Linked DNA regions of Homo sapiens: regions 1, 2, 3, 4, 5 and 6 are each linked to region 7. The links come from fine-mapping of genetic effects on gene expression. A gene starts in region 7. Each other region holds a variant in brackets. All regions are shown on one strand. Distances are between the middles of the regions. Region 1 has its middle 70 kb from the start of TBCA. Region 2 overlaps TBCA (tubulin folding cofactor A). Region 3 has its middle 25 kb from the start of TBCA. Region 4 overlaps TBCA (tubulin folding cofactor A). Region 5 has its middle 36 kb from the start of TBCA. Region 6 has its middle 100 kb from the start of TBCA. Region 7 holds the start of TBCA (tubulin folding cofactor A).

Evidence for each region. PIP is the estimated chance that this variant, and not a neighbour inherited with it, causes the effect.
Region 1: its variant is fine-mapped to the expression of TBCA in whole blood (INTERVAL, PIP above 0.99).
Region 2: its variant is fine-mapped to the expression of TBCA in esophagus mucosa (GTEx, PIP 0.94).
Region 3: its variant is fine-mapped to the expression of TBCA in monocytes after LPS (Kim-Hellmuth 2017, PIP 0.95). The same link has a PIP of 0.9 or more in monocytes and monocytes after triphosphate RNA.
Region 4: its variant is fine-mapped to the expression of TBCA in whole blood (TOPMed, PIP above 0.99). The same link has a PIP of 0.9 or more in blood mononuclear cells and lymphoblastoid cells.
Region 5: its variant is fine-mapped to the expression of TBCA in whole blood (TOPMed, PIP 0.98).
Region 6: its variant is fine-mapped to the expression of TBCA in whole blood (TOPMed, PIP above 0.99).

The regions. Positions count from the first base shown.
Region 1 is chr5:77,844,569-77,848,636 of GRCh38, forward strand. No RefSeq gene overlaps it. Among named protein-coding and RNA genes, the nearest start is that of TBCA, 70 kb to the left of the region's middle. RefSeq lists enhancers at 1-865, 1,351-4,068, 1,760-2,344, 3,071-4,019. The variant G/A (reference allele first, on the strand shown) is at 2,437.
Region 2 is chr5:77,753,275-77,757,342 of GRCh38, forward strand. All of the region lies in intron 1 of TBCA (tubulin folding cofactor A), which reads right to left. Among named protein-coding and RNA genes, the nearest start is that of TBCA, 21 kb to the right of the region's middle. The variant T/C (reference allele first, on the strand shown) is at 2,075.
Region 3 is chr5:77,798,918-77,802,985 of GRCh38, forward strand. No RefSeq gene overlaps it. Among named protein-coding and RNA genes, the nearest start is that of TBCA, 25 kb to the left of the region's middle. The variant C/CA (reference allele first, on the strand shown) is at 1,832.
Region 4 is chr5:77,689,306-77,693,373 of GRCh38, forward strand. It overlaps TBCA (tubulin folding cofactor A), which reads right to left. Exons shown (of 4, transcript NM_004607.3): 3 at 3,961-4,047; 4 at 1,861-2,193. The coding sequence ends at 2,113. Among named protein-coding and RNA genes, the nearest start is that of OTP, 53 kb to the left of the region's middle. The variant A/AAT (reference allele first, on the strand shown) is at 1,983.
Region 5 is chr5:77,810,423-77,814,490 of GRCh38, forward strand. No RefSeq gene overlaps it. Among named protein-coding and RNA genes, the nearest start is that of TBCA, 36 kb to the left of the region's middle. RefSeq lists an enhancer at 1-368. The variant C/T (reference allele first, on the strand shown) is at 2,174.
Region 6 is chr5:77,874,038-77,878,105 of GRCh38, forward strand. No RefSeq gene overlaps it. Among named protein-coding and RNA genes, the nearest start is that of TBCA, 100 kb to the left of the region's middle. The variant T/G (reference allele first, on the strand shown) is at 2,511.
Region 7 is chr5:77,774,676-77,778,743 of GRCh38, forward strand. It overlaps TBCA (tubulin folding cofactor A), which reads right to left and starts at 1,664. Exons shown (of 4, transcript NM_004607.3): 1 at 1,530-1,664. The coding sequence starts at 1,582. RefSeq lists an enhancer at 1-243 and silencers at 1,261-1,430, 1,551-1,810.

The sequences.
Region 1 (4,068 bases), 70 kb after region 7:
TCCGGTGATAATTCAGGACTAATTGTGGTGATTAGCGCAAACTGGATGACTTTGGGCTTTGCTAATGCAAAGAGAAACGTGCAGGCTCCAGCCAGGGACCCCTCGGAGAACAGTGCATGGGCTGTGCGCAACTTTGCTGAGCCATTTTCCCGCGAGGCCCCCAGCGGCGCGGGGGCTGTGGGGAGGTGGTGTGGGAGTACGGTCGCTGCTGCGCGGCGTGGGGAGAACTGGAGCGGCTGCCCGGACGCCCCCGCCCTGGTCCCGGGTACTTTCTCGGCCTGGCTGCAGCCGCGTGGATGTCTCTCGAAGCCTCCACCCTATTCTCCTTATTGTTATTTCCACTCACCCCCCAACCCCCTCCCGCCGTCCTGGTTCCAGACCGCCTCTCTCAGGCTGCCGGGGAGGGGGCACATCGCGCCCTCCCCGAGACCCTCGGCTCCCCGCTTTACCCACGCGCGCGCCTCCTCGTGGGGAGCGTCCGAGCAGGCAGGGCTTTCCGGACATCCCTCCACTACCCCGTCGTCTCCTCCTTCCACTCTCTCAGTCCTCTAGGCCCTCACCTCTCTCCCCCAAAGAAATACTCTATCCACCCCGCTCCCCCAAACCGCTGCTCCAGGTGGGTGTCCCGCAGCCTGCACCAGCCTAGACAGGCAGAACCTGCCGCCTGAGCAGGGGAAAAGAGTGCTACCGCTTATAAACGGCCGGAGTTCTCATTATTGAGGAGTTTCATAACTCTTTAATTCATTTTTAATGATGGCAATAAACATGGTAGTCATTTTGGAACAATAGCTAAAAATCATAGGGCCATTACTGTCCATTAAAACAGTGTTTACAGTTCAATGGAGGTTCACGTGCCCCGTAGTCATTCATATTAGCCAAAGGAGAGATTTATAGGTCAGAAGAACGGTTCTCTTTTTATTCTTTATACAGCATAAAGCCTATTGAGCAAATTGTTAAAAAAAAAAAAAGTTCACTTGGCTTTTAATCGTGTGAATGGGGATTAAGTAAGGAGCTGTTGTCTGGCGCCTGATTTCTATTTGATCAATAAATCATCAAGTGCTTTAAGTGCTTTATTCTCTATCAAATTAAATGAAAAATACTTTAACCTGCGTCCCTGGTGTCGGCAGATAAAGCTAATAATATTTTCTGTTATGTTTCCATTTAGGCATTTAACACTCAGAAGAATCTACTAGGTCTTGCTTGCACCGTCTTTATCTATCTCTCTCTATTAGAGATACTACATATTTATCCCACATACCTACAGACACAGGGAATTCTCAACATCAAGAGGAGAGCTTACTTGTTTCCAGGAAGAAAATCTAAGTAGGATCTCCTAATGTACACCAAGTATTTCAGTCACCAGCTCCAACTAATATGGCTACACCTTAAAGAGCAAGGTGGAGGTGCAGGGGTTCAGGTCCCACAGGCACCTGGGGAGCTGGCTCTTGTTGGCTGTTACAGGCTTGGAATAACATTTTACCTGAGTGTTTGCCCTTTTCTCTTTGATTCCAATTCTTACTAAAATAATAAATCAAAACAATAGGCCCAAAGGAAGAAATCTGTATTATTTCCCAGATTCTTCTGTCCTATATTAGATATTACCTAATATAATATGTTTTATATATCCTGCCCTGCCTTTGGAGAACTGGCTGGCAGAACAGGCCCTTCCAGACCTAGAACCATAACTACGAGGTCTGTATTTTATAGGATAATATAATTCAAATATGGTGTTTAGGTACCAAACCATGTTTTTTCATTTCATGTGTTTCACAAAAGATTTTCCCTTAGTGTGTACATTTTGGAAAGTTGTTTGTTTTTTTTTTCTTCTTTTATGCCTGGGGTGACGTGGCTTTGGCCTGTAAAAAAAAAATGCAATCCAATGATATTTGTGAAGTTTAATTGCTAACTTAGCAGCTCGGTCACACCTCCCAACCCATTAGATGATGAAATCTCACCTGGTTAACGGGTACAGCACTGTGGCCTCAATGGCGAACGCCTGATTATACAGCCAAGCTGCTAATTTACCAAACCTCCCAGCCAGGGAGGCCTGGACGGCCACCACTTACTGTATTCATGCGGTAGCTAAGAGAAGGAACCGTATTCCCTGAGCCGCTTTCCAGCTACCCGCAGAATGAGAAATGTAAAATTAGTGGAGATGTGTGCATGAAGGGAGCCGAGCAATTAGCAAGGCGCGGGCGCCCGCTTGCCCAGAGGGGGTCGGGGAGGGCGAGTGGGGAGACCAGGGCGCGAGGGCAAAGGGCTCCCTTCCTGGCAGGCTGCGGTCTGCAGGCCTTGGCTGCGGCGAGGTCAGCGCTTGTGCAGCAGCCCCCGCTGCAACGGCTCCCGGTTAAGAACAATGCTGCTTCCTACCATCCCTTTACAATGTACGCCTGTCCGTGACTTTATACCCACTTGAGGCCCACAAGGCACCATTGG[G/A]AGCACACACACTCTCTTTTTCTGTTTCTCCCCAGCTTGGCCCGGCAAAAATCATGTTAAACATCCAAACGCTGCAAACTTAACAACTGTCAGCATCTGTACAAACAGTTCTCAAATCCTAGAACATCGATCTTAGGAAGAGGGGCCTGAGGCCTCCAAGCAAGACCTTGGAGTCCCTCCGGCTAGTACCCCATCCTCATTCTCTTTTCTCCCACACCTCCCCAGTTTGTAGCTCCCAGATAGCCACTCTCCTTGGTGGCTGCAGGGCTTGGCTGCTAAGTGCAGTGCAAGGCTTGTGATCTGGGTTTCCCTCCGCCCAGTGTACGGATGCGCATAAGCTGGATATTAACAATGGCAGTGTGCGCTCGCACCTCTGCCTGCGAGGGCAGGTGTCTGTGTACAAGTTCTGTTAGATGCAATGTGGAATTACGTGCATTTGTGCAGGTTTCTAAGCCATTTTGCAGCCGAGTTGTTGCTCTGAGATTGGATGAGGGGGCCAAAGAGAATGCCCCTTTTCAGGGGCTTCAAGGCTACCTTTACTTCCTCTCCTTGCAGTTCCAGGTGGCAAACCCAACCCTGTCCTCTCCCCACCCTCCCTTAAAACCAACCAAACAGTTCACAAACCCTTATTTATTTGTTTGTCTGTGGTTATTGCCCATGTTATTAATTGCACCCAGGACTTCCTTGCTCTTTGAGAGAGCAGCGGTATAAATTGGCTCTAATAAATATTAGCTGCTAGATTAGGCGAGGTGAAGCTGGCACCGTGCTCTATTTTCGACCTGTAGCCTCTGCGAAGCCGCCAGTTCTGCGCCAGATTAGCCCCATCCATCCAGTGTCAATGGTTGTCTTGTTGAGAAAATCAGTGAGTAAACAGGGCTGACAGAGAGGGGGCCCAGCTGATTACTCATACAAATAGACTGCAAACTCCTCCAGGAGAAGCTGTTTCCAGAGATGGGTTTCTCGCATTGACAAGGCTGCTTCTCCCAGGATCCTGTGTCCTGCTGTTCCCACTTTGTCCTCCATCAATCACACAATTGTGTCCGGGATGTTTTATAGAGTCACTTAATATCCCTGCCTTCATCTCTATTCACTTAGAGAATCATCTGCCATCAGGGCTAAAGGCTTTCTGCAGGATAGGACTGGCGACACACCCGGGCAACAATAGCTCTGGTGGAAACAGGGCCTGGCGCCCTTTCTGATGCTAATAGAACAGCCCCGGGATGTTCCAGTGTGAGGCAGCTCCTATTGAAATCGGCCATTAGCCCTTTGTCCACTGCATTAAATTATCCCCTGGGCTAGTCCATGATAGGGGTATGGAGGCCACCATAAGTTTTCTTTAAAAATTATTTCTTTTCCCCTAAAATGGTTTTTGGATTTGAGAATTGGTCATGATGAAAGTCATAAGTGCTTTCTCTCTTCTTTTCTTTACAAAGTAGGGGGAATTATGTTTAGGCTAAATGTATAGAGTACTTTCGGCCTTTATCCACTTCTTCATATTATTAGCAGAACTCTGCCCGCCTGTGCCCCTACCCACCTCACTCCTCCTATTCCTCACCCTCTGCCTCTAGCCAGACTGTCCTGTCCAGATAGGAAAGGATTAAGTGACATTTAGTTTTAGACCAAAAGCAGAGC
Region 2 (4,068 bases), 21 kb before region 7:
GAGCTAGCTTCTATCAGAATGGCAAGCCCTTACTTTTCTTTAAGTCAATTGATTAGAGCTCTTTCACACAGTTTAATAGTGAAGTATCACTTTCTCCTGACACATATACAGATATAAGAGACATGCAGACAAAAGCAGATCCAACATTTTTCACCTGCTTTTTTAAAAACATTCCCTCCCTTACTTTAAACCATTAATTTAAAAAATGTTACAACAAAAGCTGAAGCAGAAAGTTACCATCCCAGGCCTTCATAAAAGAGAGAAGGAGGTAAGGCAGCAGGGTATAGCTTCTGAGATATCGTGAATAACTTCAAAATGAGACAGATTACAGAATTTAAAAATTAAAAACATCTTGCTTTGAGTAACTATTTTTAATGACATCTTGTTTTAACCAATTATTTAATTCTGTATTAGGGTATTTTTAATATCAAAGTTCAATTTTAACAAAAACTATTATAGTTTCCTTTAATTATAGCCAATTAATCACATAATATTTTTTGTTTGTTTTCATTCTCGCTCTGTTGCCCAGGCTGGAGTGCAGTGGTGCCATCTTGGTTTACTGCAACCTCTGCCTCCTGGGTTCAAGTGATTCTCCTGCTTCAGCCTCATGAGTAGCTGGGATTACAGGCATGCACCACCACACCCGACTAATTGCATTTTTAGTAGAGACAGGGTTTCACCATGTTGGCCACGCTGGTCTCGAACTCCTGACTTCAAGTGATCTACCTACCTTGACCTCCCAAAATGCTGGGATTACAGGTGTGAGCCACTGCCCCCAGCCAGTCACATAATATTTGTATAAATTCCTTTTTTATTAACCTTATTAAAACTTAGACCATTCACAGCATGTCTGGACTCTATGGCTTGTCCTGAATATTTCTCTTTCTTGAAGAACCCAGTCATTTTATTTTAGGATAAAAATTCACCATACAAGACTCTTTCTCACATAAAATTACTTTTCTTTAACCTTTCTTACCAAAAATACCTATTTATTTCTATAACTTTCTTTACATCTCTCTTACTTCCTGGTCCCTTTTACCTTGTTTTATACATAACCTTTAAATAAGCTTTGAATTAGACAAATTATTTACCTTTTAATAAGAATATATTTTTTAGAATGTTTTCCTACAATGCGTTTTTTAAATTGAAAAATATCCAGACATTTAATGAAATATTCAGTATAACTTTAGATTCTAATTTATGACAAGTTTATTTACAAGTATTTATTCCACTACATTTACTTAACAGTTTACCTAGATTATTTATGAAAACTGTGACAGTCATCATGTAAAGTTATTTCCCTGTCAACCATTTTTATATCCTGTGAATTTTGGGTGATTACCTAAGTAAGAACCTTAAGATTATATACAGGGTTATTTTACCAGTAATTCAAGATATAGCTGTTTTCATTAAACCAATATTAATGTCTTATTAAAAATTACACAACCAAAGATCATTCTGGTTTTGGCTGGGTTTATTTTTTAAACCTTAGAGTATTTGGCAGAGATAAAAATGAAATTGTTTCATCAATAAATGCAAACAAAAATGCTGACAATTCTTAAGACATTTCTAATATTATTTTACCAATAATTTAAAAGTTACATTATTAAATATTTTACTTCAGTCATGTGAACTTGAAAAGTATTTGGGATTATTATTTAATTTATGAGTACTCTTTTAGCTAAATTTGGTACCTTGCGGCCAAAAACACACAACAAAATACATGTAGCTATACATAAACACACACATACTCATAAAAACAAAGTTCTACAGCTTTTACTTCAGAACTCTAGCCATGAGATAGTAATACAAACTCACTGGTTTGCAAAAACAATAACAAAAAGAAATGGTTGGATTCATACAGTGGATTTTATCTCAGTAGAAAAGTAGCAGCAGACTTAAAGCAGGCAGAAAAGAAAGCAGAGAGACAGAGAACTTAGGAATTTTATAGTTACAGGTTAACCTTTGGGATCTGACTCTTCCTCAATGTAATTTGCCCATCAGTTTAAAATGTGCACAAGAGGCCAGGCACGGTGGCTCACACCTGTAATCCCGGCACTTTGGGAGGCCAAGG[T/C]GAGCAGATCATGAGGTCAGGAGCTCAAGACCAGCCTGACCAACAAGGTGAAACCCTGTCTCTAATAAAAATATAAAAATTAGCCGTGTGTGGTGGTGCACGCCTGTAATCCCAGCTACTCAGGAGGGCTGAGGCAGAATTGCTTGAACCTGGGAGGTGGAGGTTGCAGTGAGCCAAGATCATGACACTGCACTCCAGCCTGGGCACAGAGCGAGACTCCATCTCAAAAAATAAATAAAAATTTAAAATAATAAATAAATAAAATGTGCACAAGAACAGACCTAATATGTAACTAGCTGGAGTATTAGAAAACCTGGCATGCTCTTCCATTTATATAACCATTTGCAACTAGAGGCACCATAAAACCAAATAGGGGCCGGGTGCAGGGGCTCACACCTGTAATCCCAGCACTTTGGGAGGCCAAGGAGGGCAGATCACCTGAAGTTCGGAATTTGAGACTAGCATAACCAACATGGAAAAACCCTGTCTCTACTAAGAATACAAAATTAGCTAGGAGTGGTGGCGCATGCCTGTAATCCCAGCTACTCAGGAGGCTGAGGCGGGAGGATAGCTCGAACCCGGGAGGCGGAGGTTGCGGTGAGCAGTGATGGCACCATTTGCATTCCAGCTGGGTCAACAAGAGCGAAACTTTATCTCAAAAAACAACAACAACAAAAAAAAAAACACAAATGGGTTGCCCAAGGGGGGTCGTTCTCCTTGTTTTTCCTCATTATTAGATGATTTGTTTGTCACATTTTTTTAAAAGGAGGAACCAGACCGCAGCCTAGGATTTCGTGTAGTGGGTCCAAGTGTGCTGATTGTGGGGAGGACTCAACAGTGTGTCACCATGGAGTCATTTCCACCCTCCTACGTCTCAATTTTTCTCTCCAGAGGTCTAGCACCTTCCAGAGGGCTCAAAGTGCAGAGTGACCAGCTCCTATATGCATTTCCTAGACAAGCCTTTTTAAACTAATTGTGTTGGGAGTTCCCTGTAGGGCTGCTGCACAAGTCACAAGGGGTAAACCCCCCAGACACTCCCATTGGGCTCCCGGTCACTCAGAGGCACCTTCTGGTTGGGAGGAGCACAATGACCTTTATCTTCAGAGCTGAGGAAACACAATCTCTCATTTATCTATGAAAATGACTTTTCAGTTTCTCAGGTGAATGTGCAGACAAGCCAATGGAGATTAATTTTGGAAGGAAAGGCAATGAAGACTTTAGAATCTTCTAAAGAATCTTGCCCGCTAGAATTAGCATCCTAAAGAACAACTTCCTAAGAGGAAAAAAAAAAAAAAACAGCTAGGACTGCTTCCTATAAATTGTCCTCAGCCACCTTTAACTTTGTAGTTCTCATCCACCATTACACACACCAAGGTCAAATCCTTTCACTGTACAGGGTAGTCTCTGGAACCCCCGAAAGCCAAAGAGATCAGGTAATGCAATATGGGAAAGCAGAGCGTTAGACCTAAGAAGAATCTGCCCATGACCCTTGAAACTCCACAAACAGAACACCCCAAAAACAGGTGAATGCACCTTTGTTGTGAGTTCTTTAAGAGTTCGAGTCATTAAAAGCCTTCTCTAGACCTTTTCTTGGTACCAAAGATGGCAAAAGGGGTAAGGAGCAATAGAGTGTAAGAAAAGTAATGAAAGAACAATTTTTTTTTAAGACAGGAAACAAATACAGAAACCAAGTGCTTGGTTTTATTCTGGTTTTCTTTTTGCAAGTGTAAGGAATTTTAGCCAATTCAGAGGCTTTGTTCCCCATAATTTGGAATTCTCATTCAGATCTGACCACGTCAGGTAGAGTTGGTCAAATCTGATGGGACAAAGACCAGAACAACAACAACAACAAAAAATCCAACAATATGATTACAGAGTGCTCTAATGGTAAGCAGAAATTAAGGCCAGCTGGTTGTTCATCTTAACTTTAGCCCAGAAAAAAACCCCAATTCAGCTACTTGCCTAGGAACGGGACCCCAGCTAAAGACTGCTCT
Region 3 (4,068 bases), 24 kb after region 7:
TAATAACTGACAGAACATCCCAACAACTTATTATCATTGCATTTAAATTAAGCAAGATGAAGATAGCAGATAGGCGATTTGGCTGCCTCATGTAGGGCTGCTAGGGCATTACCTTGAAAGAGCCCCCTTAGTCCAGGATTTGGTCCTCAGCTCTCTAGGCGCAGAAACTCAAGTTTGTCAGAACATCAAGAACTGACAAAGCTCAGATGGATGGACTCACATGATCCAACTTACATGGGACCATTGAACAATCCCAAATGCCAAAGTGTTCATTTATAGTGAGAAATACTACTACATAAATGTTTAAACTGGTGTATGCATTCCTTCATTTGTAGGAAAATGTGATAGTCAGAAGGTGGCTGATGGTCATAAAGTGAGAGTGGGAGAGTTGGTTGTCTGAGCTTCATAGCACAATTGTCTGACATATCTGACTCCATTAGAGAGATGTACTAGGCAAACTGACCAGATGCTCACATCAGCTAGTAAGCCTCCTCACCATGTGTATAGAGCCAGCAGAGTCCCCCCAAGTCTCAATCTTTCTCTCCTCTTTTCTTGGCTCCTGGCTGAGACCAGCCTTCTGTCAGCATATCTTTTCATGTAGTTAATATGTGGTTAGTTACAGTTTTATGTGTCCAAGACATACAGTCTTGGACAAGTTATTGAATCTTTCTGTTTTCTCTTCTTTAGATTGGGGACAATAATCCCTATTTGATGGGGCTTTATATGGATTAAAAGCAGTAGTCCATATACGTACTGATAGGAACAGTGCCTAACACACAGAAAGCTCCCAAAACATTCAAGTTCGATTCTTATTTTTACTCCTACTTTGATTATATTATTAAAACATTCTGCACTTTTGATAGATTTTTTTTATTTAAAAAGATAGGTTAAGGGGGCATTACTACAGATCCCATGGGCATTAAAAGGATAATCATGAAATACTGTGAACAACTCCATACCCACAAATTTGATAACCTAGATGAAATGGACCAAATCCTTAAGAAACACAATCTGCCAAAACTCACTCAGAAAAAACAAACAATTAAAATAGGACTGTACTTATTTTCAAAATTGAATCTATAATGAACAACCTTTCAAAACAGAAAGCACAAGGCTCTGATGGGTTTATTGGTGAATTCTATCAAACATTTAAGAAAGATATTATACCAATTCTCTATAATATCTTTAAGAGACCAGAAGGTGAGGAACTACTTTCTAACTCATTCTGTGGATCCAGGACAATCCTAATACTAAAACCAGACAAAGACATTACAAGAAAAGAAAACTACAGACCAATATCCCTCATAAACATAGATGCAAAAACCCTCAACAAAATATTAGCAAATTGAATCCAACAATGTATAAAAAGAATTATGTCCCACAGCCAAGTGGGATTTATCCCAGTTACGCAAGGCTGCTTCAACATTCAAAAACCAACTAATGTAATCTATCACATCGACATGCTAAAAAAAATCATATCAATAGATGCAGAAAAAGCATTTGACAAAATTTGACACCCATTCCTGATAAAAACTCTCAGTAAACTAGGAATGGAGGTAGACTTCCTTGACTTGATGAAGAATAGACACAAAAAAAACCTACAGCTAACATCATACTTAATGGTGAGAAACTAGATGCTTTCCTACTAAGATCAGGAACAGCGCAAGGATGTGTCCTCTCACCACTGCTTTTCCACATCATACTAGAAGTCCTAGCTAATGCAATGAGACCAGACAAGAAAAGAAAATGTATACAGTTTGGAAAGGAAGAAATAAAACTATATTTGTTTAGATGACGTGATTGTCTATGTAGAAAATCCAAAAGAATTGAC[C/CA]AAAAAAAAAAAAAAAGCTCTTGGAAGTAATAAATGATTCTAGAGATTGCAGTATGCAAGGTTAATATGCAAAAGTCAATTGTTTTCCTACATACTAGTAAGGAATAAGTGGAATTTGAAATTGAAAACACAGTATCACTTACATTAACACCCCTTAAAAATGAAATACTTAGGTATAAACCTATCAAAATATGTACAAGAACTAATATGAGGAAAACCACATAACTCTGATGAAAGAAATCAAAGAACTACATAGAGATATATTCCATGTTCATGGATAGTAAGTCCAAATATTGTCAAGATATAAGTTCTCCCTAACTTGATCCATAGATTCAATGCCACTTCAATCAAAATCTCAGCAAATTATTTTATAGATATTGACAAACTGATTGTAAAGAGAATGTATATGGAGAAGCAAAAGAACCAGAATTGCCAATAAATATTGAAGAAGAACAAAGTTAGAAGACTAACACTACCCAACTTCGTGACTTACTATAAAGCTACAATAATCAAGACAGTGTAGTATTGGCAAAAGAATAGACAAAGAGACCAAAGGAACAGAAATAGACCTAGCTAATAGCCCATAAATAAATCTACCTAAATATAGTCAACAGATCTCTGACAAAGGAGAAAAGGCAGTACAATGCAACAAAAAGTCTTTTCAAAAAATGGTGCTGAAACAACTGGACATCCAAAAATAAAAAAAAATTAATCTAGACACAGAACTTGCACTCTTGTGTGTTCTGAGTTAACACAAAAATTAACTTAAAAATCATAGAACAAAGTGTGAAACTCCTAGAAGCTAGAAACAAGCAAAACTGGGCGGCACGGTGGCTCATGCCTGTAATTCCAGCATTTTGGGAGGCCAAGGCAGGTGGATCACCTGAGGTTGGGAGCTCGAGAACAGCTTGGCCAACATGGCGAAACCTTGACTCCACTAAAAATACAAAAATTAGCCAGGTATGGTGGCGCACACCTAAAATTCCAGCTACGTGGGAGCCTGAGGCAGGAGAATCACTTGAACCTGGGAGGCGGAGGTTGCAGTGACCCGAGATCTCACCACTGCACTCCAGCCTGGGCAACACAGTGAGACTCCATCTCAAAAACAAAAGAAAAATGCAAAACTATAAAACTCCTAGAAAATAGAAAACCCAGATGACCTTGGGCATAGTGTTGACTTTTTAGCTACAACATCAAAGGTATGATTTATTAAAGTAATACTTGATAAGCTGTACTTCATTAAAATTAAAAACTTTTACTCTGGAAAAACAATGTCAAGGGAATAATTAGATGAGCCATAGACTGGAAGAAAATATTTATAAAAGGCACATCTGATAAAGGACTCTTACCAAAAATATACAATGAACTCTTAAAAGTCAACAATGAGTTAAAAAATTTCAATGGGCAGAAATGGAAGAACCCAATTTAAAAATCACCAAAAAGATAAACAAATGGCAAATAATATGAAAATATATTCAACAGTCTATATCATTAGGGAATTGCAAATTAAAACAATGATGATATACCACTATGCACATGTTAGAATGGCTCAAGTCTGAAACATTGACAACATCAAATGCTGATGAGTATGTAGAGCAACAGGAACTCTCTTTTATTGCTGGTAGGAATGCAAAAATGGCAAAGCCATTTTGAAAGACACTGACAGTTTCTTACAAAACCAAACATACTCTTACCGTATAATTTAGCAATCACACTCCTTGATATTTATCCAAATGGCTTGAAAACCTATGTCCATACAAAAACCCTGTTACATAAATGTTTATACCAGCTTTATTCATAATTGCCCAAACTTGAAAGCTACCAAGATGTCTTCCAGTAAGTGAATGGATAAACAAACTGTGGTACATCTAGACAATGGAATATTATTCCATGCTAACATGAAATGAGCTATGAAACCATGAAAAGACATGAAGAAAACTCTAATGCATATTACTAAGTTAAAAAGCCAATCTGAAAAGGGTGCATAATGGCTATGACCATATGACATTCTGGAAAAGGCAAAACTATGGAGACACTAAAAAGATCAGTGGTTACCAAGAATTGGGTGATGGGGAGGGATAAATAAGTAGAGTGCAGAGGATATTTTAGGGCAGTGAAAATATTCTGCATGTTACTATAATGATGGATACATGTCATTATACATTTGTCCAAACTCATAGGAGGTACAACACCAAGAGTGAACCCTAATGTAAATTATGGACTTTTAGTGATTATAG
Region 4 (4,068 bases), 85 kb before region 7:
TATTTATATATAGAGACACAGAGAGAGAGGTTATACATTAAAAAAAATACCAAAATAGTTTCTGTAAATGAAATACTACTTGGAAAACTAATTGGCACTTCCCCCGCACCCGCCCCCACCCACCCACCCCTTCCCAAGCCAATCTATTGCTCTGGTACTTGATAGCAACCACAAAATAATCTAATTCTCTTGGTGTTCAAACCTCTAACACTAAACCTTAATATCAAGTTTTACACTATAATTACTTTTTATTTTCTCAACTTTTCCTTTTCCCACCTCAAATACTTTTAAAATGGCATGTAATATGTTTTGGGATGACATTCCAATTTAGAAATGCTTCTGATATATGTTATTCTCTGAAGAAGTAATTTTTGGCATGTGTAATAAGGTTATTTTTATTTTATTTTATTTTATTTTGAGATAGAGTCTTGCTCTGTCACCCAAGCTGGAGTGCAATGGCATGATCTTGGCTCACTGCAACCTCTGCCTCCTGGGTTCAAGCAATTCTCCTGCCTCAGCCTCCCAAGTAGCTGGGATTACAGGTGCCTGCCACCAAGCCGGCAAATTTTTGTATTTTTTAGTAGAGACAGGGTTTCACCATGTTGGTCAGGCTGGTCTCAAACTCCTGACCTCAGGTGATCCACTTGCCTCGGCCTCCCAAAGTGCTGAGATTACAGGCGTGAGCACTGCGCCTGGCTTAAGTTTATTTTATAAGTGATATAATCTGTGCTTTATAACAACAGAACCTTTAAGAATAACTTAGGAAAAAATAATTATTTTTCTCTTTTCTGATCTTTGGACAGATTCAATAAATGTTATGATTTCTAGTGATTATCTACAACTTCCAAAATCATACCAACCATAATAACACTGTAAGTATTTAATGCAGCAAAAATTCAAGTTTTTTTTTTCCAATTTTGACTTTTCAAATTTAAATGCTATATATAGATATTTGGTTCCTTACACCAATGCCCATTAGGCTGGTGATATAAGGCTCACACACATTTTCTGGAAATATAAAAAATCTAAATGAGTTGTCTTGTATTTTTGGAAAATAAACTCAAGTGATTGGGTAACAGGGTCACAATTGTACTGGAAAAATGCTTTCTGACAAAATGATACTTTTCCCCCCCGAGTCAATCTAGATAATCAAGATTGGCTACAGCCAAATTATGGTGGAGCTGGCCCAAATTTTCATAACTCTGTGTTCAGTGATGTCATATTAGTAGTTTGAAATTGGTCAAAGGTAGGAGTATTTATACCACAGAAATCAGCAAAAGCTACCAATCAGAGGTTCCCCTCCTATTCTGAAGAGTCTTTAAATATTTGCCAGCACTTCACTGGCAATGGCCATTATTGTTTCAAAATACCATTCAACTCTTCATTGTTCATAAGAATCTTATTTGAAGATCTAAATGGTTGGGGGTGTTTTCTGTGTGAATCTGTCCTCGAAAAAGATTTAAATGTTTCTCATTCATTTATAGTCATGGAAATGTTAGAGTTTCACTGTGAAGGCCTTATTATGTGAGACCTTCCCCAAAGAGAGTTCTTCCTTTTATATCAGTTGTATTCTATTCCAAATAAACTGCTTACAATTCAATCTTTTAGAGATAGGGTCTTGCTATGTTCCGTAGGCTGGAGTACATTGGCATAATCATACCTTACTGCATCCTCATACTACTGGGCTCAAGCAATCCTCCCACCTCAGCCTCCCCAGTAGTTGGGAATACAGATATGTACCACTACACCCAACTAAAATTTGGATTGTTATTTGAAAAAATGGTATTCTATTTTTTAAAACTCAATCCATGCTTGTGAAGCAAAATATGTAGACTTCGAATAGAACCTAACAGATTATAGTTCTCTGTCATAAAGTCTATGTGGTTTAATGATAAAAGGTTAATTTAAAAATTTTGTAAAGTATAAAATAAACAATTTTATTAGATGAACTCATTTATTTGACATATTAAATTAGACAAAGA[A/AAT]ATATATATGTAACCAGATAAAAACAATCACATTCTCATACTACTTGAACACATAGCAGTGGTCAAAAATAATGGATTGTAAAATGGACCCCAGGATTTAATGCAAAAACCACCCCATACGAGAAAAGTTTCAGGCTTCTAACTTCACTGAATCCAGTACTAAACGTGCTTCTTTATATTCCTCAGCTTCTTCCAAGTCTTTTTCATTTTCCTAAAATGAAATACAATAAAAATTAAGTTTATCCTTTTCAAGTTTCAGTACTTTGTTATTTACTCAAATATTACAAACCATTAATGTTAATAACTAAAAAATTAAAAGTAAAAAATCCCAAGCCTCATCTAAATATATTGTAATTCCACAGGTTTCCCACATTCTGTTCCTTCTTTACAAGGAAAGGAAGAAATAACTGGTGGTTTTGTTTCACTGTATATATTCTCATAAAATAAGTGAATAACAGTCTTCTAAAGCTACCAGCATTAATTAAATAAAAACCTCAGAAAAAGTTTATTCTCATTTTGTTGACCCATCATCATCATACAAAAGAGAAAAGTAAAAAGGAAGATTTACTAACATGTTACATATATGACAGCATTCAGGCCAAAATAATCCACTGACTATTCACAATGACAAAGAAGGCTTCTGATGTCACAACAGAGTTAAATATAATCTTTGAATTAAACAAATGAATTGCCTGCTTGCTAATGGGTATTACATACCCTACACTAAAGGAAACAAAATACATCTTTCATTTTCTGATATTTAAAGATTGAGTTTTTCCATAATACTGATATACAGGCAACTTTTACTAATATATTGTAATGATAACAGACAAATGAAATAATATTATCTAAAGTACACAGGAAATTTTGTTTGATTTTTAAATGAAGCTATGGTTAGCAATTTATGTCAGGTCAATAAAAGATGGAGATATACAAACAGTAGAGGAAATAAAGTATGTGTGTATTTAATATGAAAACTGAAAGCAAAACGACTGAGAATTTGCTTAGCTCAAACTATACGTAAGAATTTCTTAAACCTCCATGTTATACCTTAAACACATCTTTGTTCTCTGTTAGTAAATACAAGCTCTTCAAGGGCAGAGATATTGTTGAATACATCTTCACATACAAATATATCATCCAAATACATTATTATTATTATTATTATTTTGGTATTTTTAGTAGAGACAGGATTTCACCATGTTGGTCAGGCTGGTCTTGAACTCCTGACTCGTGATCCACCCACCTCAGCCTCCCAAAGTGCTGGGATTACAGGCATGAGCCACTGCACCTGGCGGCCAACATTATTTTTTTCCAAGCAATTTCTATTACTTTCTCAGCTACTAGATTCATGAGAGAAAAAAGCATTTAAACTGTCAAGAAATACAAATGATGCTTCCTGTCTTAGATAGTATTTTAACAGTTATTATTTCCTGCTTTATCTACCTTCTGTATCACAAGGCATTTATACCAGCAAGTATAAGTGTTATTCAGCTCCAAGTTAGTATGAGGGGACTACATAGATTACCAGGTTTTTTCCCCCTCTCAAACTGATCTAGGTTTGAATGTGAAAGAATTCAAGATCCTTTTAATAAGATCCCAAATTCTTTTGAAACATTAGATCTTTTAAAATTTTAATCAGTCAACTCATCCTCAATGTCTCAAAAGATCTTTATGTATGAAAACCAAATAATCAAGACATTGCTGGACAATACTGGTACTATCATAACTTAAATAAATTTAACTAGCTAAATTTTAATAAACTGAACAAACATGCTAGAAAACAGTACTTTTACTGGAGGCATAATTCAAAACACAATTTAAACTCCATTAATTATTTTAAAATATAGCGGTATAAAGGGCAAGTGAATAAGAAATACTGCCAACTAGTTCTCAGTGTTAAATATTTAAACTTTTGGCTTTCCATGTATTGGATTGAAAAAAAAAATTTAAACATGACACAGAAGTCTTTGCTTACTAGTATCCGTTGAAGATCCAAATATGCGGCTTCCAACCTGCGCTGGCAATCTGGGATCATCATCCTGGATTCTTGTAGGATCTCTGCCTAGAATGAGAATCTCTGTGA
Region 5 (4,068 bases), 36 kb after region 7:
CGCGGCTTCATTTTTGAATTCAGTGAGACCAAGATCCCGCCAGAAGGAACAAACTCTGGACACATCTTGGCGACCACGAAGGGACTATTGCCAAGCAGTGAGTACCATTGGACCTCTTTCACTTGCTATTCTGTCCTATTTTTCCTTAGAATTCGGGGGCTCAACACCGGGCACCTATCAACCAGTTAAAAGCCACTAGCATGGCCGCCGGACTAAAGAAATGGGTGTCAGCCTTTCTGGGAAGGGCTCTCTAACAACCCCGGACTCTTCAGAGTTGGGAGTGTTGATTTTCCTGGAACCAGATTCCGCTTTTCCTGTACTTCTGGGCTGAACCAAGGGTCGACAGAGAAGAAAGCCATTCAGCTCCGGGGTCCCGACAAAAAGTTGGTTGTTGCTTGACCCTGTAGTCATGAGCAGAACTCTCAAAGTCACGTCACCCAACCGAGACTCATCCATCTATCCTATCTATCCTGACCCTTGCCTCCTGGGTCTTAATGCCTGTCAGACAAACTTCCTCCCAACTCTCTTCTCTGAGGCTAGTCCCACTTCTAAAAACAACTCCCAGTTTCTGGTGCTTTACTAGTTTCTCCTATAAGAATGATTTCTAGTATAAACTTCAGCACTCTGTTCCCTTCTTTAGGAACCTGGGCTCACCAATCAGAAAGACATAATTTTTGCCCAAAGCCCCATCAGGAGCCAGTGGGGGACTATCTGGAACTTTAGGATCCCTCCTCAGACTAACAGGCCTAACAAAAGCTATTCCTGAAGCTAGGATATGGAGAGCCTCAGAAATGATATCCTTCCTATTCATATGATGAGAAATGAGGACAAAAGACACTCTTCCAACCCTGGAGATCCCTTCCCTCCCTCAGGGTATGGCCCTCCACTTCATTTTTGGGGCATAACATCTTTATAGGACAGGGGTAAGGTCCCAGTACTAACAGGAGAACACTAAGGACTCTAACAGGTTTTTGAGAGTGCGTCAGTAAGGGCCACTAAATCCGATCTTCCTCACTCCTTTTTGTGGTCTAAAGGAAAATTAGGGTTTCTGCTGCTGTGTTGGTGAGCGCAACTATTCTGATGAGTGGGTTCAGAGACCGTTGTGGATTCTTGGGCAAGAGGGGTTTCTGCTGCTGCGTTGGTGAGTGCAACTATTCCGATGAGCAGGGTCCAGGGACTGCTGCAGGTTCTTGGGCAAAAGGGGTTTCTGCTGCTGCATCGGTGAGTGCAACTTTTCCAATCAGCAGGATCCAGGGACCGTTGTGGGTTCTTGGGCAAGAGGGGTAAACAAACCAAAACCATGGGCGGGTTTTCTTTCAGATGGGAAACATTCTGGCATCAACAGGCTTACCCTCGAAATGCATCCTAAGCCATTGGGACCAATTTGACCCACAAACCCTGAAAAAGCAGTGGCTCATTTGTTTCCACACTGCGGCCTGGCCCCAGTATTCTCTCTCTGATGGGGAGAAATGGCCACCTGAGGGAAGTATAAATTACAATACTATCCTGTAGCTTGACCTTTTCTGTAAAATGGAAGGCAAATGGAGTGAAATACCTTATGTCCAAGCTTTCTTTTCATTGAAGGAGAATCCACAACTATGCAAAGCTTGCAATTTACATCCCACAGGAGGACCTTTCAGCTTACCCCCATATCCTATCCTCCTATAGCTCCCCTTCCTATTAATGATAAGCCTCCTCTAACCTCCCCTGCCCGGAAGGAAACAAGCAAAGAAATCTCCTAGGGACCACAAAACACCCTTGGCTATCAGTTATGTCCCCTTCAAGCTGTAGGTGGAGGGGAATTTGGCCCAACCCGGGTACATGTCCCCTTCTCCCTCTCTGATTTAAAGCATATCAAGGTATATCTGGGGAAGTTTCCAGATGATCCTGATAGGTATATAGATGTCCTACAGGGTCTAGGGCAAACCTTCGACCCTCACTTGGAGAGATGTCATGCTATTGTTAGATCAAACCCTGGCCTTTAATGAAAAGAATGTGGTTTTAGCTGCAGCCCTAGAGTTTGGAGATACCTGGTATCTTAATCAAGTAAATGATAGAATGATAACCAAAGAAAGGGACAAATTCCCTACTGGTCAGCAAGTCATTCCCAGTATGGATCCCCACTGGGACCTCGACTCAGATCATGGGGACTGGAGTCACAAACATCTGTTGA[C/T]CTGTGTTCTAGAAGGACTAAGGAGAATTAGGAAAAGCTCATGAATTATTCAGTGATGTCCACTATAACTCAGGGAAAGGAAGAAAATCCTTCTGCCTTCCTTGAGCGGCTACAGGAGGTCTTTAGAAAATATACTCCCCTGTCACCTGACTCACTCAAGGGTCAATTAATCCTAAGAGAGAAGTTTATTACCTAATCAGCTGCAGATATCAGGAGAAAGCTCCAAAAGCGAGCCCTGGGCCCTGAACAAAATGTGGAGGCATTATTAAACCTCACAAACTTGGTGTTCTATAATATGGACCAAGAGGAACAGGCTGAAAAGAAAAAGTGAGATCAGAGAAAGGCTGCAGCCTTAGTTATGGCCCTCAGACAAACAAACCTTGTTGGTTCAGAGAGGACAGAATATGGAGCAGACCAATCACCTGGGAGGGCTTGTTATCAGTGTGGTTTGCAAGGACACCTTAAAAAAAGATTGTCCAACAGAAACAAGCTGCCCCCTCACCCATGTCCACTATGCTGATGCAATCACTGGAAGTCACACTGCCCCAGAGGACAAAGGTTCTCTGGGCCAGAAGCCGCCAACCAGATGATCCAACAACAAGACTGAGGGTGTCTGGGGCAAGCACCAGCTCATGTCATCACCCTCACTGAGCCCTGGATAAGTTTAACCATTGAGGGCCAGGAAATTGACTTCCTCCTGGACACTGGTGCGGCTCTCTCAGTGTTAATCTCCTGTCCTGGACAGCTGTCCTCAAGGTCCATTAGCATCCAAGGAATCCTGGGACGGCCTATAACCAGGTGTTTCTCTCACTTCCTCAGTTGTAACTGGGAGACTTTGCTCTTTTCACATGTCTTTCTTGTTATGCCTGGAAGTCCCACACCCTTATTAAGGAGGGACATATTAGCCAAAGCTGGAGCTATTATGTACATGACTATGGTGGACAAGTTACCCATTTGTTCTCCCATGCTTGAGGAAGGAATCAACCCTGAAGTCTGGGCATTGGAAGGAACAAACTCAAGCTCCAGCCTTAAGCCTTCCCACAGGACAAAACTTCTCTTTATAAGTCACAGACAGAGCAGGAATAGCTCTTGGAGTCCTTAATCAGACTGTGCCATCTTTAAGAGCTGTAACACTCACCACGAAGGTCCATGGCTTCATTCTTGAAGTCAGTGAGACCAAGAACCCACCGGAAGGACCGAACTCGGGACACATTACTACTCTTTAAAATGAACTCAAATGTGGTGTGCATGCTTCTGTATATGAGGTATATTTCACAATGAAATGCAACATTCGTTAAGTGAGTCTCCTGGTATGTAAATCTTGGCATATATCTGATTATTTCATTAGGCTAATTTCTTAGATGTTGAATAACTGGGTCAAAAGATGTTAACATTTTCAAGGCTCTTACTTGCCAAATTACCATTTAGAAAGATTGTACCCATTTCCCTTCCCAGTAACAATGCATCAGAGCTCCTGGCCATGTTGCTTGGGAAAGTCATCTACCCTTGCTTTTCCCATGTGCAGCTACCTCCCCCTTACTCCTTAACCCACTGTATTCTGATTCTGGCTTCCAACCAAAATCTCTCTCTCTCTCTCTCTCTCTCTCTCTCTGTGTGTGTGTGTGTGTGTGTGTGTGTGTGTGTGTGTGTGTGTCTTTTAGGCTATCAATATCCTCCTATTTATGAAATTTGATGATCACGTTTTTTCTCCAATGATTTAGGAGATATGTTAGCCCTAAAGAGGTTTCCAGATGGCTAATATCATCTATCATGTATGGCTTTTAACTTTTTTTGTTCTTAGATCATAATTGGCTCTCAGTTCTTGGAGAATCTTCCTATGGCTTCCTAAAAATTACATCAATTCCCAAGGGAAAAAATAGTAGCTAGTAGACAGG
Region 6 (4,068 bases), 99 kb after region 7:
AGCCCTTGCGCTCAGCAGCGCGGCCCCGTCACCACTGGAGCCAGATCATTGGCAACAGAAGGGTTTTCTGTTGGAAGCTACCCATTTCCATCAGTGCAGTGGGCTTCAGCACAAAATGTTGTCTCCTAACACATGGGGTGGTGGGGACTTTGGGAAATGATAATCAGAGACAGGGAGCAACTGGGAGGCAAAGGGCAAATCATATCTGGGAAGAATTACCAGATAGGCTTTACCACATTTATAAAATATGAACAACTGTATTGATCTGAGAAAAAATCCTCACCCTTTTAGCCTTTTCTAAATTGAGATGATAGCACTGTTATGCATTAAAAGATGTTATCAGTCCAAAGAGCAAGTATGGTCTTATACCAACTAATATCTGCTAAAATGTACCTGACTGCATTGGAAATGTTGCAGCAGATTGGTATAGCTGGGAATAATGAACCGCTGCACCCCATTGAAATGTAATTACACAGCCCTCTTGTTCTTAAACCTATAAGGTGAAAGAAAGATGAATAGTGAAAGTAAAAACCGCTGACCCTTCAAACTTTAATTTACATTATGCATTCGCTCGCCCTTCTGATAGGTTTTAGAAAGGTCATAATTTAGGGTATTTTGCCATTGATAAATGATCTGTATGTTTGCGTTCACACGCACCGATTGATTTGTTATAGCCAAAATATTGTTTCTATAACAACCCAAGGGCCCTTAACTAGACAAACGGCAAACCAGAATCCAAGGGGAGGCAAAGGGAAATCTAGGCCTGCCCAGAAGGGGCTGGCCTTTGCCCAGGGACTCCAGGATGATGGAGTGGAGCGTGTGGGTGAGGATGCAGGGGCAAAACTGTGGGAGGGAGAGGTGGTGGTGGAGCAGGTGGAGCAGCGGCTTTGGTTCTTGGCAGGCCTGCAGTCGTGGTCTCTCCAGCCCAGCGTGGGTGGCTTCCACTGCAGCTGAAGCAAGTCTTGTCAAGACTTTCAAGTTGAGCTCCCTTTGGTGCAGAGTGGGCCAGTGGGGTTGTTAGGGCAATTTTCCCACCTTTCCAGACTTGGAAGAGGCTCCTGTTTCTGGGCCCAGTTGATGCATTATGCATCAGGGCTGCCTGCAACTGACAGCCCCTCAGCCAACGTCGACTTGAAAAGCAATGGTGCTAATCAAAGCCGACACATTTGAATGTCCAGACACACACACAGAGAAATTTACTAATCAAAAAGTGTATTTCCTAGGGCTGTCTCCAGAGAAATCCGCGAGAAGAAATTGGAATAATTTATTAGCTTACAAGTTTTCGTTGACAGTTAGCCCAAAGCTATTTATCTCTGTAATAGAGAACGTCTCCAATGTGGCAAAATTGACCAAATCAAACAGCTTTGATCAGAAAATGAATCTGGCAAGGCTGCCTGTCGGAGGGTCCCAGGAGAAAGAGGGGAAACAAACAAAAAGATTTAACAAGTGGTCAATAGGAAAAAGAGAGCAAGAGAAAGAGATTTAGGAGAAGAAAAGAACGAGAGAGGAGGAGGCAGAACAACAAATTTTGCAAAACCATGGCCCCAGCTCTGGACTGAATTCTTGAAGAAATAAATGATGTTTCACATCATAACATTTAACATGGTGCTTGTACATTTTCTGAGCCCTGCAGCCCAAACTGAGATGTGATTTTTATGGTAACAAGATGATGACAAACTGCAGAGGGATAGGGCTTGCTGCTGCTGGTGGTGGTGGTGGCAGTGAGGAAATAAGCACGGGAAAATCCAGAGAAATGGCTCTGCCTCTCCTGGACCCAGGATCAGCGTTAGCTCACTAGAAGCAACAATCATGCTAACTGTATCCAGTCTGCCTCAGTGGGTATGAGGTGCTTGCCCATCTAGTGCTAAGCTGGCTTCTGTGAGAGGCACTGTAACCACGTGTGAGTTTGAAGATAGGACCTGTTCAGAGGCTCCTCTCCTTCTGCGCTCATGGGCAGTGCCTGGGAGACTGTAGTGGGAAGATCTATTCAGTGGGAGAGTGGATCTGGGGTGCCCTGCTTTCTACCTTAACCTCTTCTTTCAAAATGTACAGGTATACAAGTATACACACTGCAGTCAAGGGAGGGCACCAAATACAGCTTTGAAGCCCACTGTTAGATGGATGGATAAGAATTATAAACTAGGAAAATACCTTAAATCATCATAACATTACTTTCCATACTAACAATGGTCTTTCCCTATCATCCTGGTCAACCAACTAACCAGTCTCAGACATCCTCTGCTGTGAGCAACAACTCCACAAGCTAATACCCCAGTGCATTCACTGGCAAGGGAGTTGCTGTATTCAACAGCCAAATAATTAGAAGGATGCTCCTGCAACCAATATATTTGTCCCCCAAATAAGTGCTGAAAAATCATCATCAACATCAGCACTTACTTTATTCTAGAGAAGAGTTTGTGTGAGCTTTTTATGTTGAAATACATTTAGAAAATCATGATGGAAAGCTGCCAAGACTGTCAATAAAGAGAACTAGTAAAATGTGGAGGAAG[T/G]CTTTCACCACAACACCCTCTGAGTTAGAATTATTTAGTGAGGACATTGTTGGATGAAGGCTTGAGAGGGTCAAGTTGACTTGAAAGGGAGCACCAGCTCTGAAGTTTGAGGACCCAGGTAATTCCCTGACTGTGTGTCTCGGGACCCACTTTCCTTCTCTCTGGAAACCCCAGGCTTTGGCCCTGATGATCATTCCCGGCATTACAGGGGTTGTGATAGGAATTAAGAGAGACAATTACCAGAAAGCACTTTGTCAAATAATTAAAGCGCTAAACAAATAGTAGAGATTATGACTACTGTTTTGTCCTGGTAGGAAGAGAATGATCAGCAACTTTGCTTGATCAACCAAATTCAACTTAATTGCAGAAGATCCGTGTCAGGAAACCAAGCTACGCACTCCGAGAGCTCACCTACCAGCCATGATTTCGGCATTTTCCTTAGTAACAGGCATTATGCCTCCTTTTTTTTTCTTCCCCCAGAGAACTGAGTCACAATCTCACAAAAAGAGGCTGGTCAAATATCCAGGGCTTCTAGGGACTGTCCCTTTTTGGCCACACGCCCTTCCTCAGACATTTGCAGGAGATAGAGTTGGCTTTAAATTCTTTCGGGCTCCCAAATCAGGTTTAAGTCCCCATGTCTGATCCATATGTCTGTGTATTCTTGGAGCTATAACCCCTGGCTAATTGAGTACTAAAGGTGGATCTGCAATTTCACTTGATCAACCAAGGCCAACTTAATGTGCTTTGTAAAGGACTTAGTGGACGGTATCCGAAAGTGAAAGTATATCTAAACCATCCAAACAAAGTCAACTTGGTTTTGTTGATATTTTATACAGGCACAGGGAGAATAACATTTTAGCCAGTCTTGTTTTTTTTTTTTTTTTTTTTTTTTTTGACAGCAAGTAAGGCAGCTTAGCTTTATTTGACTAAAATTTTCAGCCTGTATGTCTGCATCGTACAGGGTAATGGGTTAGCTTGAGTGTTTGGATCGGGTCCTCCTGTGAATGCATCAAAATTGGCTCTCATTTACAAGAATTACATTTTAATACCCATCCTGACACCGTGATGGCCACACACCACAGATTTGCACAGTGTCTTATAGCAGTTTCCCTTGGAGCCGCTCTCCTAAGCAATCATGCCTGTGATCCATGTTTTATGCTCTGCCTGGGAACGGGAGCAACACACTGCCCCTTCGCCCTGGTCTCTCAGCAGCCCCACATCTCGTCTAGTTGGGACCCTTGCAGTGTTGATGTGTACTTTTTTGTTGTTGTTTTGTTTGCTTTGCTTTTTGAGACAGGGTCTTGCTCTGTTGCCCAGGCTGGAGTGCAGTGGCATACTCACAGCTCACTGCGGCCTCAACCTCCTGGGCTCAAGTGATTCCCCCGCCTTAGCCTCCCAAGTAGCCGGGACTACAGGCATGCACCACCTGGCCCGCCTATTTTTTGTTTGTGTGTACTCTTCTCTTTGGCAAAACAAAGCAGTCAATTTCTGTTTAATGGCCTTGCTGTGTAGTGTGGCTGAGGACATGACAGGGAGCTTCTACAGCACATCAGGTCTA
Region 7 (4,068 bases):
GTATAAAACCAAGCTGTAGCCTGACCACCTCGGGCACATGTCATCAGGACTTCCTGAGGCTGTCACAGGCATATCCTTAACCTTGGCAAAATAAACTTCTAAACTGATTGAGACCTGTCTCAGGTACTTTCTTGGTTTACAGGAATTTAAGCAAATTACAGGACTGCACTACCCATGAGTTTGTGAAAGGAAAAATAAATCTCAGGACCCCAAAATCACTAAGCCAAAAAGAAAAGTCAAGCTGGGAATTGCATCGAGCAAACCTGCCTCTCATTTTATTCCTGAATAAGATAGCTACAAAGATTAAAAAAAAAAAAAAAAAAGCTACATACCTCCCTGACAATTTGCCCCCAAGGAAATTCCTTGTGGGCCTCAAGACCTTCACTCTAAAACAGTTCTGTTGTATTTCACCCTGGCAATGTAAATTGATAGCTTATCTTCACAGGTATGGGACAAAGAACAGAACTCAAAGTCACCCCTCTACCCACCTGAGACAAATGCGTAACTGACTGCTTCCTCTGCCCTACTGTGTATGTAAAATCGCAGATTCATTTAGCCGACTAAGGCATAAGTGACTATTCTTCTATCCCTCTCTCACATGTAAATTGTGTATTAAGTGAAAAGCTGATCAAAGACTCAAAAGAATGCAACCATTTGTCTCTTATCTATGACCTGGATGCCCCCCAACCTTCTAGTTGTCCTGCCTTTCTGGAGGGAACCAAGGTACACCTTACCCATTGACTAATATCTGAGGTCTCCCTAAAACGTATTACACCAAGCTGTGCCCCAACCGCCTTGGGCACATGTCATCAGGACCTCCTGAGGCTGTGTCATGGGCACGTCCTTGGCAAAATAAACATTCCAAATTAAGACCTGTCTCAGATACTTCTGGTTCACAAGTTATTTAAACAGCATCTCACAGCCTCTGGGGCGAGCTTCGGGGAATCTGACTGGAGAAAGTGAGGCCACATAAGTTTGCTGAGTGTGCTAGAAGTTCAGGCCCAGTTCTCAAAGCCTGCCAGTCACGCCAGCCATGTTAGGTCACACGGCTCCACTACGGTCTTTTTTGACGAGGCCCAGATCCTCCGCATCCCCCTAAACTTCAGAGCCTGCTTTCAAGCCCATTTGAGAGCACAGCTGGGATCCCGCTTCCCCGGGCCAAGTTCAGCAAGGAGAGGCCGGCGCGCGCACACAGGAGGCACGGGATCAGGGCCCGGCCCGCCCTCGCAGGCCGCGGCCCACCACCTTCCCACCGCGGGCGCCGAGAAACCGGGCCACCGCCGACTCTTCCGGCAAATCAGAGCGGCCAGTGAGCGGAGAGGGACGGGAAGCGGCGTGCGAGGCTGGCGGGCTCGGGCGTCAGCGCGCCCCGCTGGGTCCCTGCCAGTCCCAGCCAACTGCGGAGCCCCGGGTGCGGCCTGGAGTTCGGAGCCCGCCTCGGGCCTCCTCGGGCCTGCGCTCCGCTCAGCCTCGCGGGCCGCCATGAGGTGACGAAGAGGAGGTGCAGGGCGCCGCTCCCGGCTCCTTACCGCTTCACCACGCCGGTCTTGATCTTGATCTGTCTCACGCGAGGATCGGCCATGGTCCCTCGAGCGCCGCGAGAAGGAGGGGCGGAGAGCCGGGGTAACCGTGGAGGGCGACGCGCAGAGGCTGCGGCTATTTAGGCGTGGTCGCCGGCGCGCATGCGCAGGCTGCGCGGCCCGTCGTCCCCGCCACGCCCCGCGGGGCGGGTTTACTAGAGGGCGGTACCCTGCTCCCGCCAGTCCCTTTACCCCTCGTGCGCCCCTTTACCCGTAGTGAAACGTGCCCTCCTCCTCTCTCTCGGACTGCCCCTCTTTTTACTTCAGGCGCAAGTTACACTATCCCGGTCTCCACAGCCTGGGCCTTTGGGGAAACTAACGTCTCTCTGGGACGTTGCTTTGCGGGATTATCTGCTTAATGGACGGAGTGACCTAAAAAATGTATTAAGGGTATTTTCGATGTCGTTATCTGGTGTCAGATGAGGCAGAGTGATGCATGTGTAGTGAAACAAACTGCCATCATGCACGCAGTCAAGAAAATCCTTGCCCTTTACCTCAAATCCCTGCAAGAAGGTTTGTAGATAACGTGCCTTTCAAAGGAAATGACTAACAGAACTTCTTCAGATGATCACTTATAGTGTATCCTAAATATTTAACTTACAAGAATGTGTGTCGCACACAAAACCTTGGGCTTCCTAATCAGACAAACCGGCTTACAATCGAGGTTCCACCCTTTAATAGCTAGACTATTAGCTAGACAACACTGATACGTATGCTGTTTAGCCTTGCAGCTGATCAGTCTGCAAAATGGAAATAATAATGTCCATTTTACAGATTAGGTATAAGGGTTAAAACACCTAGCTCATTGTCTGACGCATGGTAGATGCTGAACAACATTTGACTATTTTATATGTTCAAAAATATATTTGTTGCATAAAATGAGGCACATCTACAGTGAGCTCTAGCAGTCCCTTCCTAAGAGAATCTCCTGAGGAATACAGGGCAGAATCGCCCTTTTTAAAATTGCTTTTCTTTTTCTTTTTCTTTTTTTTTTTTTTGAGACAGATTCTCACTCTGTCGTGCAGTGGCTTGATCTCGGCTCACTGCAACCTCCGCCTCCTGGGTTCAAGTGATTCTCCTGCCTCAGCCCCTAGAGTAGCTGGAATTATAGGCGCGTTCCACTATGCCTGGCTAATTTTTTTTTTTTTTTTTTTTTGTATTTTTAGTAGAAACGGGGTTTCACCACGTTGGCCAGGCTGGCTAGAACTCCTGACCTCAGGTGAGGCCCACCTCACCCTCCAAAAGTGCTGGGATTACAGTCATGAGCCACCGAGCCCACCCCCTTTTTAAAATTTCTTGGTACCATCCTTCAAAGACACCCATATGACTGTCTTTTTCCTTCCCTAGCCTGACTTACTCATTCTCACTTTCATGACTGGTCCTGGAATCCCCTTCTATCCCGCCAGCCCAAGGCCGTTACTTTAAATCCAGGATCAAAACTGAGCAAAGTCTACTATGACTCACCCCACCTGTTCAATCTTCCCTGGATGCTTTGGAGTCACCCAGTAGTCATCATTATTTTTAGTATATTTCTTTTTCAAATTATTGTTTGGTCCTTCGTAAGGGTTTTGTTCAGCTTCGTAGTTATAAATCCTGGTTCATAAACATGTTTAGAGGCAAGATTCTTGTCTTCCATAAATCTTCCTTCCCCAACCTCCTCCACCTGTGTTTTGTGCACAATGGGCACAGAATTCAATAAATATTTTTATTCTGCTGGCTGGTATACTGATGTGCAATTCCAAGTCACACAGCAGCGCTGTGAAATACTGGAGGGAGGGGTAGATAAAACACAACAGCAAACTTACCAAAGCAAAATGACATGCACACACACACACAAACACACACACACACACACACAAACAGCAGCTACAAGCCACAAACCAAAAGATGGTGCAGCTAGGGCTTTTGCTACCGTTAAGGTCTTTCCTTTGATTAGGTAGCAAAAACCATGTAACTCGTCATATTTTCCTTTTTTGCTTTGGTTTCAAGAAGCTCAGAGCTCAGTTTTGTGCTAATTTGCAGGAGTTTCTCTCAAACTAGGCTTCCCAATACAAATACCTGCTATTTCCCCCCAATCCCCAATTCTGCCTCCCTCCTTTTGCCCCCTTTCTCTTTGTTTTAATTGATTTGTATCTGTGCCTTTACTATAAATCAATAATCAGTAAATGTCAGCAGCCAAAAGACCTCTGCTGCTACTGCCATTGTGTGTTTCCAGGCCCATTCCCAGGCTCTGGAGGACACTTTGTGAGTTTATCTGTGTCTGTGTATACAGTTGACCCTTGAACAACAGTTTCGAATTGTGCAGGTGTGTCAGAGGTGTTTGAACCAAAGCAACTCCATCTTGAATAGGGTCTGGGTAATATGAGGCTGAGATCTGCTGGGCTCTCTTCCCAGGAGGTTAGGCATTCTTAATCACAGGATAAGATGGGAGGTTGGCAGGACTGGTTTCACTAGACACAGACCACAAAGACCCTGCTGATAAAACAGG